2 linked regions of the Homo sapiens genome follow. The protein of the gene in region 1 purifies or fractionates together with the protein of each later gene. This does not show direct contact. Each region holds a gene or a part of one and is shown on either strand. Other genes may lie near its edges.

What was found.
Region 2: the proteins of FBXL16 (region 1) and DAAM1 purify together in Homo sapiens (co-immunoprecipitation; 3 studies listed by BioGRID and IntAct, with this or other methods). This does not show direct contact.

What each region holds. Positions count from the first base shown.
Region 1 is NC_000016.10:699,302-702,801, forward strand, and holds part of FBXL16 (F-box/LRR-repeat protein 16), read right to left. Parts: intron 1-3,500. UniProt on the Homo sapiens protein: Substrate-recognition component of the SCF (SKP1-CUL1-F-box protein)-type E3 ubiquitin ligase complex.
Region 2 is NC_000014.9:59,328,167-59,331,666, reverse strand, and holds part of DAAM1 (disheveled-associated activator of morphogenesis 1), read right to left. Parts: intron 1,167-3,500; coding exon 979-1,166; intron 459-978; coding exon 159-458; intron 1-158. UniProt on the Homo sapiens protein: Binds to disheveled (Dvl) and Rho, and mediates Wnt-induced Dvl-Rho complex formation. May play a role as a scaffolding protein to recruit Rho-GDP and Rho-GEF, thereby enhancing Rho-GTP formation. Can direct nucleation and elongation of new actin filaments.

The DNA.
Region 1 (3,500 bases):
AGTGGGTGGCAGGGGGCACTGGGCACAGCCACGGAAAGAAGCAGAGGTGGGACCCTCACTGTGCCACCATCTGCTCCACAGTTCGGATCTCCTGCCGCCCCCACCCCGACATCCGGGGAGGAGGTAGAGCCCCTGGGGTCACACGCCCTGGACTTGAAATGGGCCCCACCCTGGCTCTGTGGTCTTGGCAAGCCACTTCCCTTCTCTGAGCCTCAATTTCCTCACCTTGAAGCCTGGGGAGGTGACGGTACCTGCTCCCTTGGGGCATTGCAAAGTGAACGAGCTCAGTGCGTGGCTCATAGCAAGGTCTGGGAGAGTGATGTCTGAGCCCCACGGCCACACTCCAGGGCAAAGCAAGATGCATCTTCCCCGGTCTTAGGTGACTCCAGGACTAAGCCTGGAGCCTCATGCAGGTCCTGCCTTCCTGCCCCAAAATCTCAGAGGAGGGGCCAAAGCCTCTCCCAGCCCACCCTGCCCCCTCCTGCCACAGCCTCACTGGAAGGTCTCTTGGAGCCACCAAGGGGGTGTCTGAGAGTCTCCCACGAAGATTCCAACGCTTGGGGTGGGCCCTGCAATATGCAGACTCTCAGGAAGAGGATGGCTCACATCTTTTTGGCTGAGTGTCCCTTCTGGGGCTACAGGGCCTGGCCTGCTCCACCACAGAGAGTGGCGGGGTCTCGGACGGCACTGCAACCCCAAGGCCCGCAGCCCATTCCCCATAATCTGGTCAGGGGGGAGGGGAGGCAGGGAGGCAGGGAGGCAGTGGGAGGTCCTGCCCCGCTCTTCCCAGCAGCAGGTCCCCACACTGGCTTCCAAGCCCCAGACAGGGCCAGCCTTGCCACCGGTCCACATCTGGGGAGGGGGTGTAGACCGGAGCCGGGACCAGGGGTCTCGCCAGAACACGTGGCCCTCGTGGCTGAGAACCCAGCTTTGGGTTTAAAGTCCTTCCTGCCCTAATGGCAGGAGCCCCAGCTCCACCCTCTGTACCATCTCCCCCTCCCCAGAGTATCATTCGGGTCCTGGAAGGTGAGGCCGGGCCCTCCACAGAGGAGGCACCCACAGCCGGTGACCCCCATCATGTGCCCATGATCAGAAGGCGCGGCCTCCGGAGGCCGACATCACAACGTTTGCAAGGGCCGGCTGGGGTCGGCACATGATTCGACCTCACGGCCGCCCTTAGGGGTGGAGGGGTCGCTACCTCAGGTTTGGGGAAGGAACACGAGGCTCTGAGGAGCGAATTTGCCCCAGGTGTCCGGGGAGGCCTGGCGCGGGGCTGCCTCGGTTCCCTCCCAGAGCCGGGGAGAGGGGATATCGCAGGATGCCGGCGCCCGAGGCGGCAGCACCAGGCCCACGGGCGCCCCAGTCTAAATATCCTCCGTGCCCCTAGAGCGGGGACCCTCGCTCCCCAGACCCGGAAGCGCCGCCTTCCCCGCCAGGGACGCCTGGGCCTCCGCAGACCCCGCCGGCCGGCGCGCCACCCGCGCCAGCACCATGGACAGCGGCCGCCCCAGCCGCGCGCTCAGGGCCAGGCCCGGGCTGGCTTCCACCGCGGACGGCTGCGGGGTCGGGGCAGCCCCGCAATCCCAAATCCCGGCAGCCCCCGCTCAGCAGGGAGGGGCCCCGGGGGCGAAGAGTGGGGGAGAAGCCGGGAAGGATCCGGAGGAGGCGGCGGGGGCGGCGCCAGGGGAGGAATAATCCCGGCGCAGTGCCGATTTAGGTTGAAAACGCTCCCAGTCATGGGCCTGCACGTGGAGCGCCGGGGCTGGGGGAGGCATTCGCGGGGCTCCTTTCCCGCCCCGCTCGGGAGCTCACGTTTGCCGGCGCCCACAGTCCCGTCCCCACCTCCAGGCCTCAGGGTCGAGATGGAGAAACCAAGCCGCACTTTGAGAGCCCACAGGAGGGAGGGGACAGGCTGAGGAGCGGCCGTCTGGGTATGGGTCCGGGGCCTGGCTTCCCTCATCCACACCCGCAGCGCTGCCAGAAGGCGCTGCTCTGCCTGTGGTCAGCCCTCGACCCGTGTGCTTGGTGGGAGCTGCATCCCCGCACAGGCAGCCCCACTGCTCCCCAATCTCGCGTCCACGTTCCTGCCGGCCCCCGCTGCTCCTCACACTCCCGGCTTGACTGACTCAGCCCGAATATCCCCCACCCCGTAGCTCAAAAATGCAAACAGCCACACACTTTGGCCCAGGCATGGGCGCTGCGGGAGAAAGCTGAGCTCAACTGGAGACTGGGGTCTCTCTGCCCGTTCAGCGAGAAGTCCCTGGGGGCTCACACAAGGGCCCCTCTGCTTGGCCCTGGGCCCGGCCCCACCCACCCAGCCAGACGGTCACCAAGGAGCCGGTTCCCATGGCTCACAGAGCCCCCTTTCCTGCTTGGCGACTGTGAGAGCCCTCGTTCCACCCAGAGGGGCTCGGACGACCTGCGTGGGCTGCTAGGGACTGCCTCTCCCTTTAGGGACAAGCAGCCCGGGTGCTAATACGGGGAAGAGACTTGTTAAAAAGGTGGCCATGCCTGCACCATCCTCAGCCTCAGCCCCTGTGGTGCTGGCTCAGCTTGAAGTGGAATCCTGTCAAGGCTCCGGGGCTCACCCCAGGGGAAAGAGAGAGAGGTGGCCCCACCTCAGCTGTCTTGTCCTCAGCAGCCTGAGCCTGGCCTGGGAGCTGCTGGGGAGAGGTGGCCGTGGCCTCTGTGTCCTCCCCAGGGGACGCAGTGTGAAGCGTGTGGCCAGAGTGAGCCTAGGGAGCACGGTGGGGCCTGGGTGCTCCTGGGGGTCCCCACATGTACATGTACAGCATCCAGGCTGACCATTCCCAGACGGCCATGTGGGGGCCCCGCAGGAGCTGCCTCTTCTGCGAATCAAGTCACTGAGCCCGGAGACCTCAGCTCCGGCCCCTTCCCAGCCCTGATGCCACAGCCCAGCCATGCCATTCCTCCTCCCCTGCTCCTCTGCCTGGGCACACGCCGTTCCCCCTGCTTGCCTGGCAGGGTTTCCCTGCCTTAGCCCTGCAAGCTCTTCTCCTCCATCCCTCAGTTCCTGGTGCGAGGTCGCCCCTGCCTCCTGCTCCGGGACCCCCAGCTCTTGAGAAAGCGTCTCCAGGGTCTTGCAATCACATGGGTTATCATCACTGTCCACCTGGTGTCTCTCCTCCTGGCCTGAGGACTCTTGAGGACAGACAGCACCAACGTGCATGGCCTCTGCATGTTCGCGGAATGAATGAATTAGGGAACGAATGAATGAATGCGGAATGTGGCTCCGCTAGCTCAGTCACGCAGAAAGGGGTGCAGCTGCCAAGGCCCCCGGAGGGCTGATGGAGGATTGGTCAAATTTAGGAAGAGGCCGGTCAGCGGGGAAGGCACAGCTCGGGAAATTAACCCGGATCGTGCCATGGCCAGTGTCCGCGGGGAGAGTGGCCTCTGGGGTTGGGACTAGGTTGGTACCTGAGTCACTGAGAGGGCTCCCAAGACCCCAGGGCTGGGGTGGGCCTTGCAATACACAGAGC
Region 2 (3,500 bases), on another chromosome or scaffold:
CAGAAGCTTTATCACTTAAATATCTGAGCTAGTGAGAACTCTTGGTCCACATTAGAAAATGAAATCATTTAACAGCCAGGGCTGTTTTCCCTTTCAGTGATAACACAATGAGCTGCTAATGCTATCCATTAAAGGGAAAACTGGAACAAATGGCTCACCTCGGGCAGTTTAGACCAGTTGAAGGATTTCAGGGCATTTGTGGGCTGAGGAATGCTTTTCTTCTTCAGTGCTAGGCCCATTGGAGCACCAGGAGGTGGCATGATTGCCCCTAAGGGAGGAGGCCCTGGGGGAGGAGGAGGGCCACCTGGAGGGAGGGGAGGCGGTGGAGGGGGAAGCATCCCACCTGGTAGAGGTGGGGGTGGTGGGGGAGGAAGGAGAGATCCAGGCACAGAGGAAGGAAAGGGCCCTCCTGGTGCTCCAGGCGAGGGTCCACCTGGGATTGAAGCACAGACGGCCCTCTGAAAAGATAAAAATAGGAAAAGAAAGATCAATGGAAGAAGTAAATTCATTGAATGATTTAAGAGTCTGTAACTTGGCCTAAAATGTTTATTATAGAGAAATTCACCCTTCTGAGAATGTTTAAAGGATCGGTAAAGTCGAATGGACTCTTTTGGGCCTTTATGGACTCCAGTGCATCAACCTTTTGTACCTGACACTCAAGTACTTGTCTGGGATGCATTCATATCTCTCTCACTTCTTGCACCATCACAGACAGTCTGGTTTTCATGAAGTCAGTTTTCACTTTAAGAAGCTAATGCAATTTCCTTTGCTCTTAGATTTGTACAGTATTTAAAAATGCACCCCCAAACAGCCTCTGCTGCCTACATGATAGCAGAGGGAGTGAGTCTCCTAATTGTGATGAATCATGAGCCATTTCAGATTTTATTCCCCCAGTATGAAGTTCTCTACTTAAGGGTGAGGGGCTCTAGGGTCAGTGAGGCCTTGGCAGCTGCCCGTGAGCTGAGCGGAAGACCTCACCCTGCTGAGCTCATGGAGCTGTGCTGTGAGGTCCGCCACCTGCTGCTTGACTTGCTTATGCTCAGTAGTCTCCTTTTCAAGTTTCTCTTTCATTTTATTTAAGGTCTGCATCATCTCTTCCTTCTCTTGAGTCTTAGCATCACATTCTCGTTCTTTCTTTTCCAGTTTCTGTTGTAGCTCATTGTGCTCTACACGAGAAAACAATTGGACATGAAAACAGGAGAGTCTTCAAAGCTGAAGCATTTTCTCTAAAAGAAAATTGACTGAGGATGATGGCAGAGATTATGAGGATCTTTATTAGGTAAATATTATTCCTCTTCTCCATCAAAGGGAGCAACTCAAAGGCTAAATGATGTTTGTGCTTGGAGTGGGCTTCGGATGAACAATGTTATTATTAACTACGTAAGAGACTGAAGAAGAGAGCCTACACTCACAGTTCTAAACACAGAACAAAAGTTTGAGTGACTTCTTGTGGAGGAGAATGGTAACTGTTTGGTAGTTGATTCAGAATCTTGTCATTAAAATGGTCCTTTAGCAATACAAGGAAAAAAATAAATATTCAAATGGCCTCTTTTCACAAATTAGAAGTGAGACAAAGAGTAGTTCAGCTTTTATGAATTAGGTTTGCCAGCTCACATCCAACCAGCCGAAGGGCTGGAAGGGAGGGTCTCACCTGTGAGGAAGAGCTGCTGTCAGACCCAGGGTTTGTCCCCAGATGGAATCACTTCTCCCATCTCCCCTCAGAAGGCTACTTGAAGTATTTTATGCTTTCAGTAAACAATTATTAAGGCATATGAAAGCAAATGTTATCATCTCAGTATTAAATATCTTAAGGGGAGTGGGGTCAGTAGAACGCGAAAATCATGGTAACACAGGGGAGAAAAATATTGACTCTTAGCTGTAGTTTTACTGACTTCCTCAATCCTGCTATAATAAAACAGGGCATCCAATTCAGCATAATGCATATTCACATTGCCAATGAATACAAGCTTGCTGAAAGGAGTGATGAGTTTTGGAAAAGAGAACTAACAAAGTTTAGGCTGCGGATTTTTATTTCAAATACATGTCCCCAATTCCTATTCTTTTTATATCAATAAATCCACTAGAGGTATAACCCACTGGGGCCGAGCTATACTAATAGAGCTGGTCTCTATTTCTGAATTTGCTAACACATTTAAATTCTTGTTTTCTCTGTCTCTGACCTTCTCTCTCCTGAGTTCCCCCAAATTAGAGTTTACAGAGAGGAGTTCAAGCCACTAAAATCCCTGGATTTTGTCAGCAATCCACTTCTACCACTCTGTTGTTGCCTCCCTAACTTCTCCAGAAATACATCCAAAAATGACCTCTCTATATCCCATTTTCCTTCTTTTATCTCCATTTCATTCTTCTTTCACAATTTCAGGACTAGAAACTTGCCTTCCTCTCACTGGTCATTAGCTTTTGATGAAGCTGGCTGTGTCTCAGAATTACCTGAGAACTTTCAGCATTTCAAGACTCCCCAGACACTATTCCAAGAAGTCTATTTTGTAGGTCGACTACAGGGCTTAGATGATCCTGATGTATGCCAGGTTTGGGAAGCTCCAGCCTAAATGACTCTCTCCACAAATGGTATCTATTTACCATTCAGTCACTAAGCTTTTATTGAGCACTTCCTGGGTGTGCTGCCCTAAAGAGAATTCTCCCCAAATATTCTCTACATTTTAGGTCCACAGAACTTCTGTCTCCTTATCACTTCTACCCTTGGACTATTTTAACAAAATATGCCCTCTTGAATACAATTTTGCCACCTGAAGCTTCTAGAAAAAAACTAACATTTAACTATAATCTTTCCTCTTTTAGACTCTACCCATCATTTCACTTTAAAACACTAAAACAACCTGTTCCTCCCACTGACATTGGTGATTTTCTTTTGTACCATCTCAGCCACCTAAATCCTGCAACAGTGGCTATCATTTATTGTGCAACTAGTATGTGCCAGACACTATGCTAATGATCTTATATTTGTTTTGTCATTTAATCTTCACAACCACGCTGTGAGTCAGGATTAATCCTCAGGTTGCAAAGGTCGAGACTGGGGGAGAAGAGAGGAAATCACTTAGCCCATCCACACAGTGAGAAAGGGGGAGAGCTGAGACTCAGACCCAGAGCTCAGCACAGTGCCTGACACATACAGGCATTCAACAGGTATTCACTGAATGAACGAATGAATGAATGACTCGAAAGCTTACATCCTAAGTGCTCTCCTCAACCTGCACACTTGAGTCTCCATGCTCTAGAGTGTATTCCTAAAATATCCACTCATTGACTATTTTCTCTTTGGTTTAATCTCTTTACCCTGATTTTTAGTCAATGTTTCTATCATTTTTGTAGCAGTTTCTGAAATTTATTTTTTAAAATGCATGTGCAATGTCACTTATTTGGGAGCAATCTGAATACATATGAGGAACTCGTAACATAACAGTAGTTAGTTCACAATTGGTATTTTCTGATATCAGTTATGGCCCTGCTTTTCTGCTCAGTGG